Regions from separate parts of the Homo sapiens genome. Here all the other regions are linked to region 3. Evidence: fine-mapped expression QTL. A gene starts in region 3. Each other region holds a variant in brackets. All regions are shown on one strand. Distances are from middle to middle.

Evidence for each region. PIP is the estimated chance that this variant, and not a neighbour inherited with it, causes the effect.
Region 1: its variant is fine-mapped to the expression of PLA2G7 in whole blood (INTERVAL, PIP above 0.99).
Region 2: its variant is fine-mapped to the expression of PLA2G7 in whole blood (INTERVAL, PIP 0.92).
Region 4: its variant is fine-mapped to the expression of PLA2G7 in whole blood (TOPMed, PIP 0.96).
Region 5: its variant is fine-mapped to the expression of PLA2G7 in whole blood (TOPMed, PIP 0.97).
Region 6: its variant is fine-mapped to the expression of PLA2G7 in whole blood (TOPMed, PIP 0.98).
Region 7: its variant is fine-mapped to the expression of PLA2G7 in whole blood (INTERVAL, PIP above 0.99). The same link has a PIP of 0.9 or more in monocytes.

Annotation. Positions count from the first base shown.
Region 1 is chr6:46,787,322-46,791,389 of GRCh38, reverse strand. No RefSeq gene overlaps it. Among named protein-coding and RNA genes, the nearest start is that of MEP1A, 4.0 kb to the left of the region's middle. The variant C/T (reference allele first, on the strand shown) is at 2,155.
Region 2 is chr6:46,668,526-46,672,593 of GRCh38, reverse strand. SLC25A27 (solute carrier family 25 member 27) reads right to left here. Exons shown (of 9, transcript NM_004277.5): 6 at 3,801-3,885; 7 at 2,367-2,459; 8 at 1,366-1,468. TDRD6-AS1 (TDRD6 and SLC25A27 antisense RNA 1) reads left to right here. Exons shown (of 2, transcript NR_134643.1): 2 at 2,009-2,150. Among named protein-coding and RNA genes, the nearest start is that of TDRD6, 17 kb to the left of the region's middle. The variant A/T (reference allele first, on the strand shown) is at 1,909.
Region 3 is chr6:46,732,894-46,736,961 of GRCh38, reverse strand. It overlaps PLA2G7 (phospholipase A2 group VII), which reads left to right and starts at 1,587. Exons shown (of 12, transcript NM_005084.4): 1 at 1,587-1,782.
Region 4 is chr6:46,433,439-46,437,506 of GRCh38, reverse strand. The region is part of intron 2 of RCAN2 (regulator of calcineurin 2); the gene reads left to right. Among named protein-coding and RNA genes, the nearest start is that of RCAN2, 56 kb to the left of the region's middle. The variant A/G (reference allele first, on the strand shown) is at 2,063.
Region 5 is chr6:46,686,931-46,690,998 of GRCh38, reverse strand. It overlaps TDRD6 (tudor domain containing 6), which reads right to left and starts at 3,114. Exons shown (of 4, transcript NM_001010870.3): 1 at 1-3,114. The coding sequence starts at 2,870. TDRD6-AS1 (TDRD6 and SLC25A27 antisense RNA 1) reads left to right here and starts at 2,834. Exons shown (of 2, transcript NR_134643.1): 1 at 2,834-3,065. The variant T/C (reference allele first, on the strand shown) is at 1,679.
Region 6 is chr6:46,846,522-46,850,589 of GRCh38, reverse strand. No RefSeq gene overlaps it. Among named protein-coding and RNA genes, the nearest start is that of ADGRF5-AS1, 55 kb to the left of the region's middle. RefSeq lists an enhancer at 3,185-3,749. The variant T/G (reference allele first, on the strand shown) is at 1,988.
Region 7 is chr6:46,769,342-46,773,409 of GRCh38, reverse strand. No RefSeq gene overlaps it. Among named protein-coding and RNA genes, the nearest start is that of MEP1A, 22 kb to the left of the region's middle. The variant C/T (reference allele first, on the strand shown) is at 2,336.

The sequences.
Region 1 (4,068 bases), 54 kb before region 3:
TAGGAGGCATGTCAACTGGGGGCCTGCTTCTGATGGGCAGAAGCGTTCTATGGCTGATTTTTGTTTTACCTAAGCCACTGATGGTGAGGTGATAAAAGGCCATCTTCCACCGTCTCTAACCATTACAAACCACTAATATTATTTTTTAAACGAAACAAAACAAAACAAAAAGCCAAATTTGCCCAACAGCCGCAATGACTTAAGTGAGCAACTACAATCTAGACCATTTAAAAATTGGGCAATAATCAAATTTTAAAACTGGCCAACATCGTAAGAATAATTGGCTTTAAGTATCAGTGTGGAAAACATATGAGACTTTTATTTCTTAAATGTGTTGTTTAATTTTTCTCAAATTCTGAAGCAATTATGGTAAAACTGAATATTTGGTAAAACTGAATATTTGTTAATCTTGGAAACCAGGAAGTAGGAGTTTGTTATTTTATTTTCTAAAGAAAAAGGCAGTGCTGTTGCTTTGGTACACCTCTCTACTAAATCTCAGGTATCAGGATTTCAAACAGGGAATAGTGAGGCTGTTTAATTCTCTCCACCTTCTCTTGCTTCCAGCCAGATGTGTTTTTATCTTTCCCTGCCTTCTTAAACTTATCTGAATGATATACTACAACAATGGCTTTGGAATCAGATAAGCAGGAACTCCACCTCTACCATTGACTAGCTACAGTAATTTTAGTACCTGCTTTTTATGTGTAGAATGGATAGTGGTGCCTACTTCATGGGGCCAATGTAAAGATTCAATGAGATAACATATGTAAACCACAGCTACTAGAAACATAGGAAGCACTCAATAAACTGCTCCTTCTACCTGCTAGTTAGCAACTGCCTCCTAGCAAAACATGGGCACTAAAAACACAGCTCAGCCCACTCCTTGCTCAGTAGAATCTCCAGTGATGAGAACATAGGTCTTCAGCAGACACAACTTGCCCCCAATTATTTTATTGTCACAATCTTAATGGCAGATGTTAATTAGTTACCAGCTATTTGCAATCCTAGTCACTTCTTCATTGTGTCAGGGTATCAAATGAGTAAGGCTGGGGCCTTAAGTCCTTCATTTGAAGGGTTTATGGCTTTTCAGTTTAAAGAAGATTATGCACTCTGTGGTCAAGGTCCATGCTTTATTTCCTGTATTTGCCCCAGTGTTTGGAAACATAGTAGGTAATTAGTTCTCATTTTAACTGAAAAAAGTAAATAGAAATTTCTCTGAAGGTATCGGATGGGGTGACTTGCTTTGATCTCAGGAAGGGCATTTCATAAACTGACCAGTTGAGAAAGTGGTCTGAAGCTTAGAGGAAGAAAGCCATTGACAGGTAGAAAATGGAAAAACCCGCCCCCAGCTATTTCCACACACTCTCCAGCTTCATAAAAGCTCAGGCAAGGAGTTGGGCTAAGAGACTTGCAAAGTCCTCTCACCCCAAACCCTTCTCAAGGATGTTCTCTGCCCTCTTTCTACTCTATTGCAAGATGCTGATTCCTTCTGCTTCACTCACAGAGTTCTGCCTTCAACCAGCTGTCAGCTAACCTGAAACACAACAGTCCTTGTTCCTCCCAGGGCAATCAACATATTAACAGGGGCCCAAAGGTGTATAGAGCAAGAGTCGGCAAACTGTCTGTAAAGGGCAAAGAGATATATGTCAAGCATTGTGGGCCATATGAGCCCTGTTGTAGCTATGTAACTCTCCTGTTGTATGTAGCATAAAGTAGCTGTAGACAATAATGTAAAGGTGTGAACATGGCTGTGTTCCAATAAAACTTTATTCACAAAAACAAAGCAAAGGGTCATAGTTTGCTGACCCCTGGGTTTTAGAGAATAACCCTCAAGGTGGTGGAAATTGAGACGGTGATAATAATTATAACAGAAGCAGTAGCAGCAACCAACATGTACATAGTACTTACTGTGGGCCAGGCAGTATTCCAAGTATCTAAGGGTAATTATCCATTCAATCCTCACAACAATCCTACGAAGAAGCAACTATTATTATCTCCATTTTATATATTAAGAAACTGAGATGAAGAAAAATTAAGGAACCTTCTCAAGGTCATGCAGATCCTGAACAATGCTCCTAAATTCCACCTGAGAGGCAGTTCTTTACACCTATGTCTGGCCTTTGACAGCCCAGGAGTGAGGCCTCCACCATTATG[C/T]TGTAGCATGCAGACCCCTGGTTTCACAGGGTTCCATCTCTAACAGTTTACTAAGAAGAATTAACCCTGAGGGAAACAGTTCCCAAGCTATAGATTCCTTCAAAATCCTCTGGATGGTTTGTTGAGGTACAAATTTCTTGGCTTGGAATTTGGAAATCCTGACTCACGTCAAATGGTGAGTTCCAGAGATCTGCATTTTTAATAAGCACCCTTGTGACTCTGATGCAGGTAGTCTGTGGAACACACTTTGATGAACAGGACACTGTGGAATTTGCATCAGTCAGATGCTTCCACTCTCACTGTGGTTATCGAATAGCTTTCCTCTGATTCCCTTTGTATAAGAAAATCAAAAGATCATAGAACCTTCAGTTTCCTAATAGGGAATACATCAGATGTTAAGAATTCGAGAGATCATCAACACAGAAGTCCATTTCAGAAGGCCTCCAGGAAACAGCCCCTCTGCAGTGTGGTTTGAGGACCTGCATTTTTAACAAGCTTGGGGGTTATTTCTATATGGAAAATGTGAGACCTGCTGACCTGGGCAGGCAACTGTGTTTTGGAGTGTGTACAGACACCAATCCCAATTGGTGAGGCAAGGGGTACTTCTTACTCAGCTGGGCACTGAGGACCCTAATAAGCCACTCTTTAGGGCCAGGTGGGCATTCAATGGATTTGGTTCCAGCCTTTTCTCTTTTATAGAACCCAAAGAACACATTGTTATCTTTCTCTTATGACACAAGGAAGAATCAGACAAGCAGCTTACTTTATGTTTTCCCAATTCTCTTTCTACTTATCGAACCCTCATAAAGTATTTAAACTGAAGCCAACTCAGCTATGAGCTACAAGATTGTCCCCTGATTTCAGGAAAAGTCTCCAACCTCTGCTAATTAGAGGGATTATCGCTGCTCACGCGGCCTAGTTGGACTGTGACATCTGGGAGAGAATACTTAACACATGGAAATTGTTGAGTGAAGGGAAGACACAATTGAGCTGGACTTTTCTCTGAAAGGAAATGTGATTCCTATGAAGAAGTTTTTCTACTGCTTCTGAAATAAGGGTACAAGGAAACAGGCTTAAATTGCAAAAGGGACACTTGATCGTTAGCTGTGAAGACCTTCCAGGGCATCTGAGGATTCTTGGATCCTAAAGTATTTTAAGAAGGGAGACAATGTTAGTCATAGAAAATAGTGCCATGGCTGCAGGCTGGGTGTGAGGCAGCCACAGACAGATACAATTCTTCAGATAGGGGTGGTATTGGAGAAAGAATGGGTAGGGCTTGGTTTGGGGATTTTTTGTTTGTCCTAGAAAAGTCATTCAGTTTTGAGGTCTTTTAATGGAAGCAAGATGATAGTAAGTTACACATGGAACTTGATCCAGACAACAGGAGGTTTAGCCATTTAAGAAAATAAATAGTATCTGTAATCCCATTTCCCTTTGAAAATGGCAAAATTGTTTTTGGTGCAGCTGATTCTTTTATGCAAGTGGACAACAGCTCTGTTTAGGGCCAATTGCATTATCTGCCACTTTAACAGGAATGTCAGTTGAAGTAACAAGGGGAAGGTGATAGGAGGCCTATTGGGGGCATTTTTGGAAATTCTCAGAATAATCGATCAAAGTTGACAGACTGGCAAAGGAGGCTTCCTGAATTGGTAGCAGGTGAGATTATACTCATATTCTGAATCAAATTTTAAAATATAAATTTACCTTCTAATTGCCAATGATGGGAGTGTGAAGACTGCAATGGCAGCCACTTTCTAAAACAATGTCACATATTACACTAATAAGGACAGCTTTGCACAAACATGCAAGCCAGAGTGTCAGTCACCGATGACCTGTGAGTAGAAGTGTTACATTTCTTTACATACCAGGAAAGGAAGAAAGCTTTTAATAGCTACACCTTGGTTTTTCAGTTGA
Region 2 (4,068 bases), 64 kb after region 3:
ATCTTCTCCAACCATTCTCCCATCCCCATCCAATCAGTCATGTTTCTATTCCCTTTCTACCTCCTAAACATGTTTTTAATCCATCTTCTATTCCCACTGTCATACTCTTGTCCAAGCCACCATTATCTCTCATATATCACTACTCCTGGCCTTTTCCCAATCCACACGACAGGCAGAACAAATTTTCTAAAAATGCATATTTCTTCAAACTGGTGCCCATTACTCTTCTGGCTCATATGGTCCTTCCTAGTGTGGTGTCTGCCTCTCTGTGGTCTCACCCCTTGACTCTCTCCATGAGGTCTCTGTAGCTTGGTCTGCTAGGTTTCCTTGAACTCACCCTGCTCTCTGTCCACTCCAACTGTCCCTCTATAGAGAATGTTTTTTTTCCTGCCCTCTTTCCTGGCTAAGTCATACTCATTTTGCAAATCTAAATTCAGAAGTCCATTCTCCAGGGAGGTTTACTCAATTGCCAGCTTAGGCTGTGCTTATTTGCTATATATTTCCATAGCATTATGCACTCTTCCCATAACATTTATCACTTATAGTTTCTTATTCAAAGCTGAGTCCTCAGTATAGGGCTTTGCATGATGTAGGTACTCAATTAAAAAGATACATATAATATTACATTATATATAATTGTATTATAATATATTGTGTTAATTTTTGATTGCTTGAATTTCTAAACCTATAACTCACCTATTCTTTCAAATGTTTTAACTTACAAAAAACGTCAGCACTTTGTTTTTATTATATTTGCTATATTACTTAAACAAGTCTATCTAATTCTACATTATAGAATTAGAATTCTATATTTTATTTGCTATATTGCTTAAACAAGTCTATCTAATTCTATATCTTAATTCACTGCAATGAAAAATAACATCTAAACCAAATAAAAATGACATAATATTTTCTTACTAAGCAGAGTTTTGTGGTAATAAATATTAATGGGTAATGTAACATCTGCTATCAAAGTAACAAATTTTTTTGAAACAGTATTTTTTTTTGTAGGAGAGGTCTCTAGTGTAAAATCTGTATATATATTCTAAAATATTGTATTAAAATATGACTAAATGAAATACTAAAAATTTTACATTACAGAAAATCTATTTACTGGCTTTATAACAAGACTATCAACTTATTCGTCAATGGATGTAACTTATTTTACCTTACTCTACCACAGAAGGCAAGATAACTCTGAGGAGAAGTGAAAGGAAATAAAAGAAGATTTAAAAAAGAAAGAAAGGACCTTGATTTGGGGGGCAGGGCCATGCTTCAAACCAGAAGAGAAAAGGGAAAATGCTTATAAATTAAAAGTAATTTAAGTACAAAGAAAAAAAACAAAGGAAGTAAACCTAACTTTACCATTCTCAGCCAAGATGGTAAAAAGCCTTTATATAGACTCATGAATCCTTCACCTTGAACAGCCTGAATCAAGCAGTCAGTCGATGATTTATACAAAAGTCCCCTAAAAAGGAAACAAGATCCTTTTAATTTTTTTCTGTGTAAAAAAATATATATGTACATAAAAATTGTCTAAGGAATCTTATAAAAATTAAATATTGGCCGGGCGCGGTGGCTTACGCCTGTAATCCCAGCACTTTGGGAGGCCGAGGCAGGCAGATCATGAGGTCAGGAGATGGAGGTCATCCTGGCTAACACGGTGAAACCCCATCTCTACTAAAAAAATTAGTCGGGCATGGTGGCAGGCGCCTGTAGTCCCAGCTACTCAGAAGGCTGAGGCAGGAGGATGGCTTGAACCTGGGAGGCGGAGCTTGCAGTGAGCGGGAGATCACGCCACTGCACTCCAGCCTGAGAGACAGAGTGAGACTCTGTCTCAAAAAAAATAAATAAATAAATAAAATTTCTGCTAGTTTAGAAAAATATTTGTGGTTCTACAGATACAGA[A/T]AACTTGTTTTGATCTTAAAGATATTTTCAAGGTTAACTCTTCTGATTCATGCCACCCTTGGTCTTATATTTAGAATTCATTCTATCTTTTCTCTTCCAGGGAGAACATACTATTTCATATCAAATCAGATTCTCCACGTTACCTACTCAAGTCATAAGCGTCTGAAGAAAGTGCTCTGTAAATTCTCAGCAGAATATGCTTTTAACAATTCTTTAAAAACAATAAAGTCATAATAAAAATCTTGTGTCTAAATAATATGATTGTTAATTAGCTTATCTCCCCAAATGCATGTCACTTTTTCATCAAAGAGCAGGTAATTGCATAAAAAAAATGCGCTCAATTTTCTCAAAAAACACACAAATACATTTCTATCAATAAAAAATGCAGAGATGCATCTTTAAAACACAAAGGTATTACAGATATTCAAGCACATGGATACTGAAGACTTTTTATCTACCTTCCTTGTTTATCTCGTGGTTGATTCATTATTCTGCTTTTGATGACATCGGCTGGTGTTCCCAGAATAGAAGCTACCAGTCCAGAACATAAACTATAAATACAAATAAATGAAATTGAAAGATGGTATGTAGTAGTTTGTAGCTTAGGAAAGGGAATGTGGTATTCAGAAAGAATATAATACTAAATATATTCTTACAAGCTTCATAATGCTCTTTTTGCTTAAAATTAATGCTAAATTAATTAAAGAGGTAGAAAAACAACAAAAAGAATGTCAGTCAACAAACAGGCATTGTGCACCTGCTGGTGTCAAGCATTCTTCTAGGCAGTGAACAAGACAGGTAAGACCCTGCCCTTGAGGAGCTTATACTTCACTTGGGAAAAGGCAGAAGTCAAATAAATAATTTCAGAAGCTGACAAAAGCTATGAAAAAAACATGGGGAAGTGTGACAGGGAGCAACTGGGTGACAGGCAGTCAGGGAAAGCTCCGGGGGTGACAGCAGAATTGAGTGGTTACAAAGGACACATGTATATGAAGACCTGAAGGAAGAATGTTACAAGAAGATAGAACAGTACATGCAAAAGCCGAGTCAGTAATACTCTTGGAGTGGTTAAATTCACATGCGTGTGTGCATGCGCGTGCACACACACACCCCTACCTCCAAATATTTGACTTGACACTATTACACTTTTAGGGTTGTCTACTTTTAGGGTCATCTAAATAGCATAGGAAGTTTTAGAATTTGGAAACGATCAGAAGCTAAATGAAATCACTATAATGTCAAGGACAGTAGACATCTATAAAATAAGTCATTCTAATGGATAATTTGAAATTGTGTTGCAAAGAGATCAAGGTACTGCTCCTTCCTGGAAAGCCCTTCGTATCCCTTTCTGTGAAGAGTCACAGCCTTTGAAAACCCTTGTCTATTTCTACCTCCTTTGTGGATCCTTCCAAGTGGTTATGTTTTTTCCTTCCCCTGAACCCTGTAGTAACTAGTTGCTTCCTTTTAGCATTTCCTGTAGAGTGTTTTTATATTTGTCTTGTTTTCCTGGTTGGTAAGTTCCCTGGGTAGGAATTGAGTTTACCCCTTTGGTGCCCACTGCAGAGCCCTGCCCAGTGCCTTTAACATAAAAGGCACTCAAACATATCTGTTGAAATGAGTTGGAGAGTCCATCATCATAGCCTGTTCCTGGGATGGCCCCATCAAGATGCAAATATTTTGAGAGGTTTAATCCAAAACATCCTACAACTTTGTCTGTCTCTTCCCCATTCTAACTGCAAGAAACTTTAAGAAATTTCTCTTTATAAATGTACTCTTCTCTAAAGGTGATGCCAGTACAATCCCAATCAAATGAGCCTAAAGAATTTATGTCAAATATGGAAGAAAAAGTGATACAAAAAAAAAAAACAGAGTCCAACTAAAACAATCCTTACCTTGATAAACCGTGAGTCATGATATTGTCCTCAAGTGGTGTATTCAATACCAAGTAGTGTTTCACTGTATCATAAGTGGTTAAATCTGGCAATGGAAAAAGTTTAAATATTCATCAGTCAACAGTGAATGTCTTTTGTGTCAAGAATATGCTAGGCTTGGGGCAGGAATGTGTACCAGGATGAAAGCTACCAAGGAATCCTTCTTGTTCTCAAGGAAAGCACAGCTACAGATAGAGGGAGAGAAAAAGAAGAAGAGACAGAAAGTCAA
Region 3 (4,068 bases):
TTTTTAGTATATGTCCCAAATATTGCATGGGGCATATTTATACTAAAAAACTATTTATTGTTTATCTGACATTCAAATTTCACCAGATGTTCTGCATTTTTATTTGCTAAATCTGGGCACTCTTCACTGGGCATCTTCTCAGGGCACTAACCTGCCAAATGCCAACTGCTGTGGGGCTGCTCAGAGAATATGACCTAATGACAATGGGAGATGACATGTTGCTGGCAATGAGAGAAGTGAATAAAATGTTGCATACTTGTTTTCAGGAGCTGTTCTCAAAGCTTACCACCTTTTTAGTGTGGGATTAGGTCTTCAACTTCAACTTTGTCTTCACCTTTGTCTTAAGGTCAAAAGAAGACGTTAGAGATGTCTTTGGTAGGGCATAATGTATCCTTTTAGATTGATATTTGTGGGCCATTTGTTTTACAGGGGGTTAGTCCAGGAAGTACAAGACAATGTCATTAGGCGGATAGAGTTCCATTTAAATTAAAAATAAAATCTATTGTTAGGTTTAAATGAGTCACTGCTTCATTAAGCTATCAATATTAGATAACACATATTGAATGAATGTTTCCCATAGGCCAAGCTCTGTCCCAAGCATTTCACATGTATTTGCATTTCGTGCTCACAAACTGCCTCTGACTGACTGATTTTGATTTTCTTGATTTTATGGATGAGGAGACCGAGAAGCAGAGATGATGAACTTCCCCAAGGTCACACCACTCATAAGTGGGAGAAACAAGCTAAAATTCAGGCCATCTTACTGCAGAATACTCAAAATCAAAATAAGCAAAATTTCATCTCCAGTTCTGGCACCTCACCAAAAACCAAAACACGATTTAAAAATATAAAATTTTAATAACACCACACATAAATTTCAAACTACTTTCCCTAAGTTTCTAGCTGAAGTTTTAAATGAGTGTGTTTTTAATTTATTAGAAAGTGGATTGAAGAGAAAACATTGGAAGATGAAGGAAGGCGTTTCAGTTAAACCCCAAATAACTCTGTGTTACACTGAGCTATGAAACGGCTCCTTCTAGCTCCATTTCTCCTCAGACCTAAGTGCTATTCCTGATTGTCCTTCATTGTCATTTCCAGGGAGAAATGACACCAGCACAGTGGCAGGCCTTCCAATCTGGAGCACGGTCCACACAACTTCCGAATTGGTGTTCAGTGTAAAGTGTATCGGAGTGCGGAAAATGCGCAGGGCATTGCCAACTATAGATGCTCGGAGTAATTCAGTGTATTCAGAGAACACGGTGAAACAAGGAAAACCGGCCTGACTGGGGGGTGAATTCAGCAGGGAGTAAATCTGATCGGCATCAGGTCTGCGGAAAGGAGCTGGTGAGCACGACACCACCCAGGCATTGCCTGGCTCTCTCCGCGGCGGGCTAAGTTAACCGCGGGTCCAGGTGCGGGCCATGGTCTTGGGGAGGGTGCTGGGTGCGCTCGAGCAGGCTAGCGTCGGGAGCCGCCGCTGCTAGTGAGAGGCCGGGGCCACACACGCTCCTCCCCGGTACCTCCTCCAGCATCACCAGGGGAGGAGAGGGTCGGGGCCACAAGGCCGCGCTAGGCGGACCCAGGACACAGCCCGCGCGCAGCCCACCCGCCCGCCGCCTGCCAGAGCTGCTCGGCCCGCAGCCAGGGGGACAGCGGCTGGTCGGAGGCTCGCAGTGCTGTCGGCGAGAAGCAGTCGGGTTTGGAGCGCTTGGGTCGCGTTGGTGCGCGGTGGAACGCGCCCAGGGACCCCAGTTCCCGCGAGCAGCTCCGCGCCGCGCCTGAGTGAGGAGGGGCCCCGGGGGCGAGGCGGGAGTGGGAGGAAGGGCACGGTCGCCGCGCTGGAGGTCGGGACCCCGGAGCGGCGACCGGCCGGGGTGGGCTCGCTGAGTCGCACCCGCTCTGCTGGCCGGTCCTGGGCTCACAGTCCCTGCAGCCCTCGGAAACAGCGCTAGGATCCTTGCGGGGAGAGGGAGAGGATGACGGTATTAGACACCAGTTCTTCCAAACCTTTTCCCGAAAGGAAGCAACCCTAAGAGCTCAGAGCTGGGGGGAGAATCAGGACAGGCAGGGAACACATGGAGTTTTCTTTTCTTTTTTTTCTCTCTCTCTCTCTTTCTTTCGTTCCTTCTTTCTTTCTTTTGAGGCGGAGTCTCATTTTGTCGCCAGGCTGGAGTGCAGAGGCGCGATCTCGACTCACTGCAACCTCTGTCTCCCGGGTTCAAGCAATTCTCCTGCCTCAACTTCCCGAGTAGCTGGGACTGCTGGCGTGCCGTATCACGCTCGGCTAATTTTTTTGAATTTTTAGTAGAGACGGGGTTTCGCTGTGTTCGCCACAATGGTCTCGATCTCCTGACCTCGTGATTCGCCCGCCTCCGCCTCCCAAAATGCTGGGATTACAGGCATGAGCCACCGCGCCCGCCCCGGAGTTTTCTTATCTGTAGATCTCCTACAGGGACAATCTCTCTCTCCGTCTCTCTCTCTCTCTCTCTCTCTCTCTCTCTCTCTCTCTCTCTCTCTCTCTCTCTCTCTCTCTCTCTCTCTCTCTCACACACACACACACCACTACACACCTCTCACTCTGCCTCCTCTCTCTCTCTCCCTCCGCTCTCTCTCTCACACACCCTTCTCCCTCTCTCCCTCTCTCTCACTCTCCCTTTGAGGAGTATTGCGTTTTTGGAGCCCAGTTATGCGTGGCTGCTGTAAGAACAAAACAAAGCACTCTTTGTCCTACCTGGAGCATCCCCCTGCCGGCCAGATAAGATCACAGCTGTGTCACCAAGTCAAGGGAGAGGCTCATTTTTAAAAAATTAAGCAAAATCAGAAAACAGAGAACACTGTCTTCCTCATCATCTCCTGGAGCTTGTAAGAGAAATTTCTGTCACCAAAAACGAAAAGTTCGGGCTTTTATTCATGCCTGTGGTTCTTGGGATTACTGCAGTGGTGATGAGGAAGGAGAGGTGCGTATGGCTCATAAATGGCAGCTTGCCACCTTTAAAAGGCACACGGATTCAGATTTGGGATGTGTTAACAAATCAGGCTTGCACAAATTACTTTTGATCCAAATGAGAATGCTGAGCTGGGAGACTGGTATATGGGTAGGAGCTGGAAAATGTATCCCCTGAGGTGTTGGCAATCCCAAGAGGCTCAGCACGAAACCTTGAGCTTACATTGAATTCAGAGATCTGAGCATTAAGCACTGGCCTGATCAAGAAGAAGCAGATGGCCTTCTGGTCACGAGGCACTGGTGAGCCTCCATCACCCAGGCAGATTCCCTCACAGAGGAATTCTGCTGGCCCTGCAGAAAGTGGTGAGACAGCGCACCACCTTGGCATTTTCCAGCAGGCCTACTTCAGCTCCTTGCACTTGGGCACTGAAAGTGCTTTCCCCTCCCCAGATATTTGTGCACCAGAAGCTGCTGCTGGCCATGTGGTGATGTCTCAATGTCTTTCTTCATTGAACTGGGCCCTTCATACCCAAGGCTGGCACCATAGTCTGTGACTGCCTACTGTACAGCCAGCAAGACTGAAGGAGTTGCAGCATTAGGAGTGTTGTGAATCTGGTTCAGCCACTCATTTTACAGTTGAGAAATCCCTTCTGAGGTGTGGAAGGGCTTGCTTAGCACCGCAGGACTTTTCCCTCAGACAGAACCTGGGACAGCTGGGTCCTCATTTCCTCTCCATTGTGTCTCTGTCCCCTTTGCACTTTTGTTGTGAGGAACATACATGGGCCTAAACACATTCCCTCACTCTCACCTTTGCACATGAATATGACTTACCACACTCTTTGAAGCTCTGTCAGCACAGAACATTAAGAAAAGTGCTAACTGGGTACCTGAGCAGCTGGAGTGGGAGCCCCTGGGAAAGTCAGTTTAGGAGTCCCCTTTATCTTCCTTTTCCTGATACCCAAGAAGATGGCTATTTCCTGGAAAGGAAGGTGGATATTGGATTATTTACACTCTGATTCCTCTTAAGCCTAATTTTTTTTCAAGATTCGTGATAATAAGCCTGACTGACGTCTCAAGATGTTGAGAAATTTCCATAAAATAAAAGCATTGAAGAGAAAGTACTG
Region 4 (4,068 bases), 300 kb after region 3:
TATCTGCACTCAATGTACATTTGGTTTGTGAACACCTTAATCAGTGACTTTACCCAATTTTTAAACATTTCAAGACATATTTTCATGCCTTGTATTTTATAAATTAAGTGACTATAGATCCCTTATTTTAGGATATGGGGTGGGAGTGATGCTCTTGGAATTTATGCAGGATCTGCTAAAAGCAGCCAAAACACATGTTATTATACCATGTTAAACTAAATAAGCATCTAAACTGTAAACTGTATTGGAACTTGATGGCAGGGCATTAAAAAGGATTGAGCAAGCCCAGAAATGGAACATTATGGGTCAATGTGGAGGCTCGTTTTCCTATTGCCTGTTCAGGGCATACACCCAAATAGGATCAATTTATTTTACGTGGCACTTTCAAGCCCGTAAGAGTACTAATGGCTTCTGAGTATAACCAAATGCTTTTCCAACTGAAGCATAAATGGAAGCATCTGCTTGGAAAAAAATGAGGCAGTTGTTTAATGTTATAGTGTCTGGAGATGACAGACAACAGTCACATAATCTGTGTCTACATGTGACTGAAGGCATTGGTGCCTACTGGGAAGGCTGAACTTTCTTTTGAGTTACTGGTACTTTGGAGGGGTTGGTTCTGTTTTTATTATCTAAGAACTCAAGCCTCATCCCCACAAGGGTCATTCTGTCTCTAATTAGGGAAATGATATAGCAGAGTGATTGAGAGAGAGAGGGCCTTAGCATCTATCAGTCTAAGTCCAAAACCAAATTCCACTGCTTATTAGTTGTGCGACCATAGGCAGTTTATTTAACCTTTCTAAACATCAATTTCCTCACCTGTAAAACAGCATCAAGTAACAGTATTGACCTCATAGGTTTCCTGTAAGGATATAAGTGATATAGTCAATGATGTCTTGATCCTAGTTAACTGTAACTATTGGCTAGGAATAATAATAGTTTCTGCCCATCAGTCTGATCTGCATCTTGCATCATTTAAAACTCATGGGACTCTGGGCCCGGCACGGTGGCTCATGCCGATAATCCCAGCAGTTTGGGAGGCCAAGGCAGGTGGATCACCTGAGGTCAGGAGTTCGAAACCAGCCTGGCCAACATGGAGAAACCCCGTCTCTACTAAAAATACAAAAAAATTAGCCGGGCATGCTGGCACGCGCCTGTAATCCCAGCTACTCGGGAGGCTGAGGCAGGAGAATTGCTTGAACCCAGGAGGTGGAGGTTGCAGTGAGCCGAGATTGTGCCACTGCACTCTAGGCTGGGCAACAAGAGCAAAACTCCATCTCAAGAAAAAGAAACCTGTTGGGACTCTTGCTTCCCTTGCCTGTGGTTGCTGCATAACGCACCAAAGAGCAACTCTGGTCAACTGCCATTGTCTAGTCTCACTACCCTCAGAAGAACTTCTAAATCCAGATGGGGGAGCAGTAAGCCAGATGAGTACCTTCTGAAATCTGAGCACATATGTTTATTCACAAGAACTAGCCCAGAAGAAAGTGCATTTTCTATCTCCCCTGCGTACAGAGTCTTGAACAGCTACACATTTCCTTACTGTACCAATAAATTGACAGTCTTTTGTCTTCATTTCTCCAGTGCTCACTAGAAAGTTCCATTTTCCTTTATGTTTGATGTATAGTTACAAAGACTAGATGCAGTCACTTGGCAATTCCATTCATATGCCTCCATGTGAAGCCTGATAAGTGTTGGACTTGTAGTTGGTACAGCATCCTTAGAAGTTTTCTGAAAAGACAAGTCAGTTTTGCCTTCCTGTTTTGCTTTCCATTCTGTCGTTGCATCAGTTCCTAAAGAAAACTGGATTGGTTGACCAAGCCTTCTTTGTGAGTAATTAAAGGCATTTCAAATTTTAATTTCAGGAAACAAAAGTCTACTGAATAGAAGATACATTCCTCTGCGGGTGCTTCATTCTTGCTAATGGCAAATTTTGAGTATTCGTTAATTGTGATTGGCAATTTAAGCAGGTCCAATTACTTTAGAAGGAATTAACATTTGCATGGGAAAGAGAAGGTAAATGAGAACAGAGCCCTTTAAAATCTGAATATGGTTTTTAAAATAT[A/G]TTCATTAAGTACTTTGAGAATTTTACTTAGAAGACTCTTCACTTAATCCAAGCACATTTCTTTCTGAAGAAAATAGTGCAGGAAGCATCATAGCAAAATAGCCACATGAAAAGTGACAGTTCTCTGGAAGAGAAACATCATTATAAAGAGAATTTGAATTCATATGAATGACTTTATTACACTTAATGTTTTATATGATTAAAGGAGTTATTTCAAAAAATAATTCTTTAGGGAATCCTATATAATCACTGTAGACAGAATGATAGCCAATAGCATACATGGTAACCTTTTAAAAATCTCTTTTGGCACAGGTTGTCATTTGTATAATACTAATTATTGCTGGGCACAAAGTGAGAAGATTTATATTCCAATCTATATAGAAGGCCATCATGAATAAATAATGCATCGCAACGACATATTTAATTGTCAGAGACTTTGTTGCCAGAAATATAACTAATATGGGAGGTGCACAACTTCTCATGGCACAATCTCATTCAGGGTTTCTCCACTTCAGAATTACTGACGTTTCTGACTGATAATTCTTTGTGTGCGGGCTGCCCTGTGCCATGTAGGATGTTTAGTAGTATCCCTGGCCTCTACCCACTGGCTGACAGTATGCCATTCCCCATCATGAATACCCAAAATGGCCCCAGACATTGCCAGATGTCCCCTGGGGGGCAAAATCACCTTGCTTGAGAATCACTGGCCCAGTTGATGGTTTCAAACTACAGATGAGAGGAGTTGCCTGGGCATTTCTCAATAATCTGTTCTAGGACCTCATCTTAGGATAAGAATCTCCTGGGGTGGGTCTCTAGAAGAAGCATGAAGAAAAGAAAGTTATAATCCCATTCTCTACATCTCATTCTGAGTTCTTTTCTTTCCTCCATTCTAAATGAGGAGGCTGCAGTTCTTCAAGTCCTCTCTTTATGAGCTGCTTTGGGGCAGTCTGTGCTTAGTGACATGGAGGCTCCCATAAGCAGCCCTCCAAATATTCCTTCCTCATTCCAAAAAAAACTGTCATGTAAGGTCTCCCCAGAGTGTTTCTGCATGGGCCTCAGGAGACCTGTCTCTGAGTTTGCTTCACAGACACCTCTCCCTCAGCTGCCACCATTACTGCACCCACTCTCAGGACACCAGAAATTGTGGGATTCAGACCAAGGAGAAGTTTTGTTTTGAGATAATTTGTTTGTGGAGTTACCATTGGATTGGTTACCCAGATGGTTAGGCTCAGCACTTTTATCACTGTGGTAATATTCAGTATCCTAGGAAAAGCAGCTATCTTTGTGAGGCACATAGTGTGAATGGAACCTAAAGAAAGGTGACACAGGCATACTGGGCAATCAGCACATTGGTCAGAGGGAGTAAATTTTAAAGTACCAATGATAAATTAATTACCATATCAAATCACATGAAAGTCTTGTGCCAGGTTTGTATAGGCAGTCTGTGTTATTGGTGCCATTTTGTAGTTATACCCAGTAATATGCTGAAGTGGGCACTTACCCGCTCCACCAATTGTGTGCAGCATTTAACAACATGGATTAAATTGGCCATGGGAGTACTAACAACATGGAAATGAACAAACTATAAATCAGGCTTGTTTGTTTTCCTAGAGTATTAGTTTCCTATTTAACTAATTTAAATTAAATTCCTAACAATTTACCACAAGCTTAGTGTTTTAAAGCAATGCAAATGTATTATCTTAGAGTTCTGGAGGTCGGAAGTCCTAAAATCTAGGTGTCAGCAGTCATGTATTCCTTCTGGAGGCTCTTGAGAAGAATCCATTTCCTTGTCTTTCCAGCTTCTAGAGGTTGCCTGCATTCCTTGACTTGTAGCCCCTTCCTCCAACTTCAAAGCCAACACTGTAAATCTTAATATTTCACTACCCATCTCTTTGACTTCTGCTTCCAATAACACACCTCCTTCTCTGAGTCTGATCCTCTTGCCTCCCTCTTGTAGCTTTGTGTTACACCTGGATAATCCAGAATAATCTTCTCATTTTAAAGTC
Region 5 (4,068 bases), 46 kb after region 3:
GCAAGTCTCTTTTCTACCAAGAAATGGCATGCACTCTGAAAGGGGGTTAGCAAATCCACAATGTTAAACAGTTCTTCATTAATTGAAGCCAGAGCAAATATTGTACATTTTAATTCTAGATTTTTTTGCCATGCATTATCTATAAATTCATTGAAAGCTTGTATTGCCTTTACATCCCAAACAAAGGGATTCTGGCCAACTGGTTGAATTAAATTATAAAGACTGCACCTAAAAGCCTGTGCCTTAACCTTCAGAAATTCTTCACTAATTGAATAAATATTCTTCACAGATACCATTTCTCTGTCTCCATAATCTACAAATGTTACATTGACATGCTCCACAGACTGTATCCCACTAATAAGTGCTCTGGACCACTGTCTGTTTACTGTTCGCTTAGCCAAACAAGCAAGGGTGTTTCTCTGGTGAGGAGCAGCTGTATTTTTGCAATAGTACTGAATATCAGACATTAGAGTTTTAAGTCCTTGTATGTTCCTGGTCAGCTGACACCAGAAATAGCCAGGGTTTTCAACATAAGACACTCTGACTTCTACTGTACTTCCAACTTCCAGCTCTCCTTTACTAGAGGAGCCTGGCTTAATTTCCAAGCAATTCTGCATAAGAGGAAAATAAACAGATGCTCTTTTCACTTTTTCCTGCACAACTAGTTCAGTTGAACCATTTGTTACAACTGTTGTGTCACTCAAAGCTTTTGAAACAGATGTGGTTTTATTCTCTCTCTTGGCTTTCTGCTCTCCTTCTCCAGTCTTGGCAAAAGGTATTTTGTTACTCTCCGTAGTAAAGTGGTTTGAAACATGCCCTGGGGAGTGGGCATTTACCAGGATATTTTCCTTTGTTTCAAATTCCTGATACTTGGCATATCCAGCTTGGGCAATTACCTTACTAATGTTTTCTTCCCCTGTTCTTGATTCGTCAAGAATCTCAATAACATATTGATGATCCTGTTTATCAAGAATATGGATGACTAATTCTTTGTGGAGCACAGTCTTTTTAAAAAAGGAAACTGCCTCCTGGCTCCAAGTTTTTCCCAAAGGCCAAATATCAGCCAGGGTGCACTTCACAGCCAATATTGGTAGCTGCCTAAACTGAGGAAGCAGCATCCTTACGTCATACCAGTCCACATTTTCCGAATTGCCTCGGTCAACTAAGAATACATCCACACTCTTGTCATCCAATTTGGTGACTATGGCCCTATAATAACCATTTTCTTTCCACTTGACACAGCAAAGGTCATCAGGTTCAGGTTTCAAAACTACACCATCCAGCTTACTGGCAGAGGAATAGAAACCACACATTCTCCTCATCAGCTTACTGAAGGTGACATTGTGTTTCCTCAACCTAATCCAAAACTCAGAAGGATTTTTAACAAACTCTACCTGCGCATCGTAGAAGGCATTCATCTTTAACCTGATAGATCTTAAGGCTGGGAGTGAAATCTCTTCATCTACTTCTTCAGCAGGAGACTGAGACTGAGATGTTTCTGGTTCCTCCTCCTCTGTTGCCTGGCTCTGAAGGACTCGGTCAGCCAAGCAACACGACTGTACTCCAAACACACGGTTCAGATTAATCCCATCTTCTCCATACAGGCTGACATAATACACATGCTCAAAGGAGCAATAAAATTCAATCTTTGCATTCACTGCCTTGCCTAGTATCAGTG[T/C]CTTCAGGTCACCGACCTGTGACCGAGACCAGCCTCTCCCACCGTCCCAGAGTCCATACAAAGCACAAGGGTAGGTCACCACCGGCATTCGAAAATATTCAGGCAGCAAGTACCGAAGGCTGCTGCAACTCACTAACTCCTTCCTTCCATAGTCCACATGAAGCACCTGGGCACAGCGCTGGGGCCGAAAAGTCTCAAGCAACAGTGCTCTGTACCAATGTCCATCCAGGCCACAGGATGCACACGGAGAGCCCGGCTTATCTGGGCTCTCCTCCCTCTCCTCCCAGGTGGCACTGGTAGAGTTCTCATCCCCTGTCCCCGTGGAACCCCGGTATACCTGGGCCATGCTCTCGGAGAGGCGGTGGATCTCCTGCGAGACGCTGCGGAGCTGGCAGTGAATGCGGTGGGGATGGCACACTTGGGTTATGACCACGGCCTCCGTCACGCCCAGCTGCAGCTGGGGATAGAAGTAATCCAGACCAGGCTGCTTTTGCTTGAGCGGGACTCGCGAGAGAACCGGGACCCCGGAGCCCACGCTAGCAGTGGCCGCTGTGAGATAGCGCTCCAGCAGCGAACGGAAGAGGCTGTCGGGCACCCGCCGAGCCAGGCCCAGCTCCCGCATCTGTTGGAACACATCAGGCACCTCCAGGAGGACCAGGCGATGGAGCAGCAGCACGTCCAGGACGCACCCGTGCACCTCCTTGCCCTGAAGGTTGCTAAGGAAGTCCACGGCGTCGGCGGGCCAGTGCTGCGGCGGCTCGCCTGAGCCCGCGCCGCAGCCTGCCGGCACCAGGCCCGCTAGCACGCAGCCCAGCACTTCCGAGGGCAAATTGAAGAACTCTCTGCGCCCAGGCGCCAGCGAGCCTGCTCCGGCCGTGATGGTGCGGCCCTCGTCCAGCAGGAAGACACGGCTCTCCTGTGCCTGCCGGCTGACCACGCGGCAGCGGTGCCACAAAAGCCCGACCTGCACCAGGCACAGCTCGCCGGGCGAGGCCGAGGCGCTGCCCAGCGCCCACTGGCCGCGCGTGGCCGCCGCTTCCTGGATTTCCCGGCTCAGCCGCAGGTACTCGCCCCGCCGCTCGCCCACCAGCCCCCACAGCTGCACCGGGATCACATCGGGATGCACGTCCACGAAGGACACCCGCAGGGCCAGCGAGGCCCCCGGCGCCGGCATTCCGGGCGTCGAGCACATCTTGACGGCGCGGCGCGGCCCCCACTTCCGGAAATTAAGGGCCGCGCCTCAGGGCCTCGAAATCCTCCGCGCCGCCTGAAGGCGAGTCCCAGCCAAACTAGGTTCAAAGGACCCAGTGGAGGGGAAGAATGCCGGCGAGGCCTTTTCTCGGCAACTCCCCCGTCGAGGGTCCTCCGGGACTCCCGCCACGGACTGGTAAGACCCGGTAGCCCCTCCAACCGCCCGAGGTCGCGCTTCCGGGCACGCATTTACCTCACTCGGCGCCGCCACTTCCGGCCGCGGAGAGTGGGCGGGGCCAGCCGAGGCCTGGGGTTGGCCTAACGCCTAAGGGCCCAAGGAGCTTGTTGGGACGTTCAGGAGACCCCGAGGTGGGAGGTTTTGGACACAACCTGCATCTCCTCAGAGCGCCTTCGACTCTGGAGGCCGCCGTGTGACGGCCTGACACAGGGCTGCGGTGAGGACCGACCAGAGAGGGATTTCCTTTTCGTCCTCCCAACTACCAGGGATTGAGCACTGGGGGCCAGGCAAGGTACTAGCCAGTGGCGTTCCCGACGGGAACGAGAAACGCAGGAGCCAATGGCACGTTCCTAGGCGTTAAGGCCGGAACTCTAGGAGGGCCCTGGGTGCTGCTGCGGGGCACGGGTGCTCCTGCTGGCTCAGTGTGTCCGTGGACAGCCAGGTGCTCAGCCTCTATTCTTTAACCCTGTTCCATCATCTGAATTGATAAGAGTTGTTATGAGGTTAAAATAACGTGTGAAAGTATATAGCAACTGGTACATATTTCCCTTCCCACACTTAGCTGATACGGGTTCCTTTGCTCCTTTGCTGTCTAACTCTGGCATCCCAATTTTGAAGGCATTTTCATTTACTCACAGAGCTAGCACAGAACTGGATTCATAAAAGGAGGCCAAGAGGAATGGAATCAACATTCCTTCAAGCCCCTGCTGTATATACTAAAATCTTAACAGGATAACCCTTTGAGGCCTCTGTTAAATGTCCAAACCTCCATTTGGAATGGAAAAGTGCAGGCAAACTAGAAGTTTCCAGGATATGTCTACATTAGATTTTTGTTCATTTGCAAAGTTAGACACATCCGTGGAAGCTTCTTATAGTCTGCCTGTACTTTTCCTTTCATTCCACGTTTCGAAATGTCATTACATACAAATACAACAAGGCAGTGCTTCAAATGACCCTGGCC
Region 6 (4,068 bases), 110 kb before region 3:
ATACCTTTTGATTGTGTTTTTAAAAGGGCAACGGGAATGGTGTCTCATCATTTCAAGAGGACGGTAGTTTAGCTTTAATATTAGGTTCTGTTGGTTTCTAAAATTATGACTTGGGATTTAAAATCACATCATGTATGCCAGCACGCAGCTATGCTTCCTTTCCATTCCATAACAAGGAAATATCTAATGAGATCCCGTGAGCTGTCTTTGTAGTAATTGTCTGCCTTCTTGCAATGTGGTGCTGCTGCTGCTCAGGCTTCTGCATGTCACCCAGAATGCCCCTCCACTCTCCAAACAGCGAACGATCCTTTCTATCTTCCAGGCATGGGGGAGGCCGGCAGCTCGCCGCTGAACTCAACTGGCTGTCAGGGCTGATGGTTTCCCTCACCTCATCCACACTCCCAAGCCGTGTGCAAAGATCCAGCATGTTATAGAAGGTTTAAACAAGGGTCCTTGAAGTAAAGTTTTCAGAACCAAATGTCTAGCAAATAAACAGATGCCTGTTCCAACATTTGTGTGAGGATGACTCAAAATTTTCATTGACAGCTGAAAATAGAGCCCTCATGTCCTATAGATGAATATAAAGGATGTGAGGGCTCTATTTATCCTCTAGCACATTCTAGACGGAAACCAAGTTTCCCACTGTTAGTGAATGTGGAGTGGACAGAAGAAGAAAAGAGGGGAGATGGGCCAACTCCCGAAGCCCGCTCTGTGCCAGACCAGTTCTTATCTCCAAATATCATCTCTATGTGTTAGCGGTGGGCGTGGGGGCCTTGGTCGTGGTGTCCTACGATTCAGACACAGCCGTCCTGTCTATTCTTAAATGATTTTATACACACCCATTTTTCCCCTTTTACCTGTAAACTTTGAAATGAAGTTGAAAGGCCACCAGTGTCCATGACAGGTCCCTCTGCACACATGGGGCATGGTTAGGAGATACATGAGCCTGTTCCCACTGCAGGGTTTTTATTCTCTCATGCAGAGCCAAGTGAAGGATGCCGGTGACTATTGAAGCCCAAACACAACAAACCCAGAAGCCTGGGGGGAAAAAAATGGCTTTATTCTCAGCATGAAAGGCAAGAGGACCTGACTGGGCAAGTGGTGGGCAGATTGCTGTCACGGCCCACTTCCGATGACATTAAACCGCAAAACCTAGGAATGACTTTGGGCCCTGCCTTTTTCGGATTTTGATTTTTACCATCCTGGGTCTTCCATCCTGCCAGCCAGCCGGCACCCCAGCAGTTGTGGGAAGAGGAATTTGACTTTGATTAACCGAGAAAAACTGTGCACCCGTTTTCTGTTTTTTTCTGGAACTGTGAGGGTTTTCCCATGCCCCAGGGGCTCCCTCACAGTTGTCCTATGCCAAGCATTCCCGACAGGAATCTCCAGCTGGGTTGGAGTGACAGCTGGCCTCCAGCACCGCAGCTCCGCAACCACCGCTGGCGTCTCCTGAGGCTCGCGCGCCCCCTGCTGGGCCTGAGAGGAGGCGTCCCCGCTGCGGTCCGGCCTCAGGAAGCCGGCGGGAGGCAGTCAGTCCCGCGGATGACGCGCCCAACGGTCTAGGTTCAGGAAGTAATTTGATCATATGGACAGAGCGAAGGTCAAGGCATAGTGGATAACAGAAACCAGGAATGAAAAAAATCTCTTTCACTCCCGCCTCCTAACACTTTTATATTATGATCCTTGCAGGGGAAAGGGTAGTCAGAAAGCAACGTAGGACTGTGGAGGGAGGGAAATCCCAGTCATGTAGTTTCAGTGTGTGAAAGGCAAAGGAAATTTCAGGCCCCCAATTCACTATGCAAAAAGGAAAAAATTAAGATGGAAGCTAAGTCATGCAAGAAACAGCCTTTTCCTTCTGTTGCTAAGCGAATAGCTAACAGATGAAAGGCCAGATATCTCCACAGATAGCTACGCTAGGTTCACCTTTTATGTAAAGTGCCGATTTACTGAGATGAATACATCACTGACTATTCCCCTACCTGCTCCT[T/G]TTCTCCTGCAATGCATGGATTATGCATTGTGACCATACCCTCCCTCTTCGCCTCCACTTTTCCCCTTTAAATACTGAAGCCCTCAAAATATCTTTGCAGAAAAACGGACCACAGACTGTCTCTGTGATTCTGTGTTCCTTTCTTCCAGTCGTGTTCTTAACCTTGGCAAAATAAACTTCTAAGTTGATTGAGACCTGTCTCAGAGACTGTTCGGTTTACAAGTGTGCATTGCACATCCACAGGCAGGCATACATTTCTGAGGCATACTCGCTGGGATAGCTCCTTCCTTTCTCTGTCCCCCCTCACTGACTGAATCTCATTTATGGCACTAACAACAAAACTGAAAGCCCCAGAAATGATCTGGTTCACCCATTCCAGATAGGTTGCTGGAAGGTCGTTTGAGGAAGAAAAATGGGTGCCTTCCATGTTTCATGGGAACCTAATACTTTTTCTATCAAGGCAGCTGCAAAAGGATTAACATAGGTGGCCCTATTCCCTTTCCTAATTCATCCATTCAAAGCCACTGCTGGCCTGGATTTTCATTTTCAATCCATGATGAATCTGCAGATGAATCTGCAGCTATCCCAGGGCAATCTGACAGACCAGCCAGCAGCTGAGGCTGGATGACAAGTTCCTACCCTAGCCTCTGAGCACACATTGCTAACGTGTGATCCGAGAAGACCCAGGTCCTTGGAGTAGAGGGACAAGCTGAAATGGCCTTAAGTAATAAGGCAGACAGCTTCCCAGTTTGGGGGGATGTCACGCACCTTGGCCTGTTGCTCCTATCCCCTCGGAATAGCTCTCACACCTTCTCCCTCATGTTGGACATTCCTTTTACAAAAACAGAAATCTCAAGGACAGATAAGGTTAAGAAGGTTAATCTCAGGTTAATCTCAAGGAGAGAAAAGGTATGCAAATATACTTCTGGGTGAAACACAGTAACTTAAATTTACCCTCGAATGAAAATGGCTGGTAACTATATAACTATGTTAACCAACAGTTTTTGAGCCCTTGCTGTGTACCTGGTCCTGTTCTAAGATTTTTATGTGTATAATTTCATTTAAACTCTACAGCAAACCAAAAGTAACTAAATATTCTTTTTCTTTGCATTTTTAGACGAAAAAACTAAGCACAGAGAGGTAAATAACTTGTCCACAGTCACACAGCTGAGGACCAGTAGAACCAGGATCTAAGTGCAGTGTCTGACCTAGAACATGGGCATGTATCCACCTCCTTATGTTGCTTCTCTATGCAACCTGATGCCAGTTACTTGCTTAAAAGTAGGCTTCCATAGCAGGAAAAGTTTCAAATGCACAAAATGAGAGGGGAGAACAATGGTGACAGAGAGGGTGGAGGAGTTAAGGCATCTCCCAGCTTCATCTCACTTTATAATTCTACCTTGGGGCAGCCCAGGACATAAAGACCAATGTTCTGGGCAAACTTCAGAGTGTGCCTGCTTCCTTTTTAAGTCTCTGATGAAACATCAAAGAATTCCTGCTGTGCTGCTTTATTGAAAGTAGTTCTCAACTTAGCTATCTCAACCCCCCAGCTTGAGTCTTCATTCAAGTGAGCTTCTTGTAAGGTCTCAATCACCAGTGTTGTTGTTTTTATTTTCATCTCGGATCTATCAAGAATTCTCAGAGTGTTGGATGGCATTTAGACATGTAGGAAGAAAATATGGCTTCCCAGAAATGAAGAGTGATTCTGAGGCTATGTTTAAACATATCAAGTGGAGAATTGGGACATTTGTCCTAATACATTTAGCTAAGTCATGATTTTCCTTATGATATGCAGACTGAAACAGCAGCTGATTTGCTACTTGAATGCTTTGCACTCTTTGCTTCATTTTGCATGGACAGGTGTATTGGGCTGTTCTTCAGCATTGATTGACAGCCAGTTTGGTAAATGTGGTACGGTGGTTAAGAGCATTGGTTCTAGAGCCAAACTGTGTGCTTTTCAATTGGAGGTCCACCACTTATTAGTTTGACTTTTGGTAAAATAACTCTTTCTGCCTCAATTTACACTACTTGAAAGGAGATAATAATGGTACAGGCTCCATGGGTTGTTATAAAATTCTTAT
Region 7 (4,068 bases), 36 kb before region 3:
CAGATTGCTCTGATGGCAGAAAAGCCATCCCAAAAGCTTACATAGCTTAACATTTTTATAATAGCAATAGGGGCCAGACCTCATGTTTCACTGTTTCACACACAACCTTGACTTCTCAGTGGAAAGTATTTTGCTACCTTAGATTCTTCAGGATCTGCAGTCATCAAGTTTCATGGAACCTGATAAGGAGGCTCAGAGTCACATGGCTGAGGGAATTCCAGTACTGAACATTAAAAAAAAAATCTTTGTAGCTAAATTTACTTGGAGACTAGCACAATGTGCATGGGTGTTAGATAAGGCCAGAGAAGTGTCTTGAGTGTGACCAGGCGAGAAATAGGAAGCCAACTTAGAGAGCAGAAGCTGTTCTCTCTAATTTCTGAACCCCTGCTGCAAAGTTGCTAAACAGTCACATGGTTCCTAGTGGGTGGAAGGTCTCTGATTTCTCTTCTGCAAATGTGGCAAGAATTTAGAGTTCCCCGGCCCAATAAGAGGAACATGTGTGGCCACAGGCTGGCCTTGGGACTCCAGTTATATCCTGGAAGGGAGCTTCTTCTTTGCCTTGGTTTTGTCAAATGACATGTGACAAGAAATGGTTTGCTAAGAGACTGCTGCTGTACTTATAATGTTCCCACAAGCCATGCCAGAGTGCCCAAAGAGAAAAATTCTAGTACCCCTCAAGTCCAAGATTCCTGGAGAGCTCACGGCTTCTGCCCCAAAGTCCTTTGGTCTGATGGAATCTAGGACTACCCAAATGTTGAGAACAGAGTGACAAAGCCAGCAGGGGAGAGAATTCCTGAGCTGTCTCTTAGTGAAATTTGCTCTTTTGCATAGGAATTATTGGTGATGCCTGATTGCCCTATAGTTGTTACATGTGATTTTATAAGATGGGGGGAACAATCCTCTGGAGGGAGTGTGGGACGGTGGACAGATGACTGGACTAGAACACAGAAAACCCAAATTCAAATACTAATTCTACAACAAATCCGCTATGTGAGCTTGGGGAAATCACTTTTCTTCTCTGAGCATCTGATTGCCCATCTGTAAAATAAGGGTTTTTGGTTAGATGAACTTTAAGGTCCTCTTGACTCCGATAATAAGAGTCATAACTATAATCATGAGTGCCAGGTACATCATGTGTAATCCTAAGAGGCAGGCATGCCTATCACCAATTACAAATGAGGAAACTGAAGATATGGCAGACTAACCAAACTCCTCAAGTTCAAACTGCTTAGAAAGAATTGCTTGAACTGACTACCCTAAAATAGATCCTGAACTCTGACTACACAGCAGAATGTGAGGGAATTGTTTCTAATTTCTTGGGCTTGTGGGCACCACAGACATTTCCAAAGGCCACTGGCTACTACAGAAAAGCCTCTAGATTTTCCCCCTATCATTACATTTAGAAAACTTTCAAATACACAGAAAAAATTTTTAAAAATTTTATAGTACCATCCTAATACCTACCTTCTACTAGCTCTTACTGCTTGCTTTCACACATAACTAGTCACCTGCCATCTCACTATCCCTCCGTCAATCTTATGTTTCGAGGAACCTTTAGTCTTGATGAGTTCTAAGAAAGGTGTCTCTCATTAAGCTTTCTCAATTCTTTCTCTCTGGCCACATATTGCTTAATCTTCACAAGTATCAATGAAGCCAGCATGAATGGGCCTTATAGAGGAAGAAACTGAGGCTTACAAAGGTCAGCAACTTTCTCAAGGCCACTGAGCTGGGAAGTGCTGGAACCTACCTGTCTCAGGCAAAAGCCCCTGCTCTTACCCCCATGTTCTGTTGCCCTCTGACACAGCACTTTTCAAAAACATAGGCATTATGCCTTCGTTAGTCAGTCATCTTTTACTTCCACTGAGGGGTTTTTTTTTCCCTAGAACATTAAAATCTTTGAGGAAAAATGAAACAAAATAAAAACGACTCAGGTTTTATTCACTCTGCTATGAGCAGAACTTCATGTATAGTGTCCTAGAAGAGAATGAGTAAATTATGTGGTCCCCCTCCCATAAAGGTTGACTTTACCATCTGGTTTTGTGTGTGTGTGTATATGTGTGTATTTATGTGTATTCCATCATATCTGTTTGCTTTCACAAACCAGCGCCTTTCAACTCCGTTGTCAACCTTAGCTGCTTCTTTTGTCTTTCTTCCTTTCATTTTGCGTGCCATGTTTTGAAATGGTGGGAGAAGAGGAAGTTCCATCAGCGTGAATGAGCGTAAGTATAGGCACTTGAGTGATATGGGAATGCTCATATTGCTCAATGTGTCTTTCAACACCCAAGCCTTATCATCCTCAACCTGTCAGCTGGGCTTGCACAAGTAAATACATTTC[C/T]GTTTTTTTTTTTTTTTTTTTTTTTTTTTTTTTTTTTTTTTTTTGAGACTGAGCTTCGCTCTTTTTTTGTCCAGGCCTCCCAAAGTGCTAGGATTATAGGCGTGAGCCACCGCGCCTGACCTAAATATATTTCCGTGCCAGCTTGATTGAGTAAAGGGATGTTGGTAACCAGAAATGCCTTAGGTGATCCAGAACCCCATCACACCTTTATTTTAAAGTAGCTTTCCCCCTCTGCTTTCATTTAAATATGGGTGTGTCTGCAGTTACAGGAGCCATAATACTTTATTTTTTTAATGATTTTTCTCCCCTTTTTAAAATTATTATTTATTTATTTATTTATTTTGAGACAGAGTCTCGCTCTGTCCCCCAGGCTGGAGTGCAATGGCACGATCTCAGCTCACCGCAACCTCCGCCTCCCAGTTTTAAGCGATTCTCCTGCCTCAGCCTCCCAAGTAGCTGGGATTACAGGTTTGTGCCACCACACGTGGATAATTTTTTTATTATTATTATTTTTAGTAGAGACAGGGTTTCACCATGTTAGTCAGGCTGGTCTCAAACTCCTAACCTCAGGTAATCCACCCACCACAGCCTCCCAAATTACTGTGATTACAGGAGTGAGCCACCATGCCCGGCCCACTTTTTTATTAAAAAATAAATCACAGATTGGGAAAAATGGTTTCTCTTAATATTCTTAGTGGACAAAGGTAATGTACAGATTGGCAAAAAGAAAACACATTTCCATTACAAAAATGGGCAATGACAACGGGAGCCCTAACACTTTAAATCAGGGAAACTTACCATGAAAGTGTTTAATTATTTTGTCCCATGAGCCACTTTGGCTGCCTGGTAAAGTCTATAAACCCCTTTCTAGGAAAAGCCTTTTTATATAAAATGTAATATAAGAGATTACAAAGAATACTGATATTATCATAATGCAATTATTAAAATATTAAAATAACTGTGGCATATTTATGTCATTATTAATATATTACATAACTAGATTTAGAGATAATTCTAATAGTTACTGTAATTTCCAGTTAATGAGTATAAATATTTTAAGATATCTGAGATATTATCAAAATATTTCTTAATTTGAAATATAATATTAATATAACATGAAAATATCTGAGATATCTGTGTGCAACGAAGCCACATGAACTAATAATACGTATGAGTTTTGTTACCCACCATTCATAGTTGAAGGAAATGTTAAATGTCACATAGGGCTAGTAAACGTAAATATTTTTCCTCCAAAGAAGTTTACATACATCCTAAATTCTATGCAGTTATAAGAATGATTAGTTTAGAAAGGATTTTAACAATTATACAGCTCAAGGATTCTAACCCTGGATGGACATCACATTAATTTAGTGAATATTGAAAAAATAGAAATTCCTGGGACCTGACTTATTGAATTAGAATCTCTGAGGAGAAATCCATAAATTTGTATTTTTTATAAACTCCAGAGGTTATTCTGATACAAAGCCAATAGGGAATCCACTGAACTAGCCCAATATTTCCAATAATTTATTCACCAAGAATTTATGGAATACATTCCCTTTTCCATCATCAACTCTCATGGACCTGGTGTTTTGACAGGGGCTTTGTCTTCCTACATGAATTAAATAATCATTAATTTTTCCCCCATATTAAAAAATGTTTACCGTATACTTTGCATGTACTAAAACTTATACTTTTAGTGTACCATACAGTCATGTAACCCAGTCATGTAA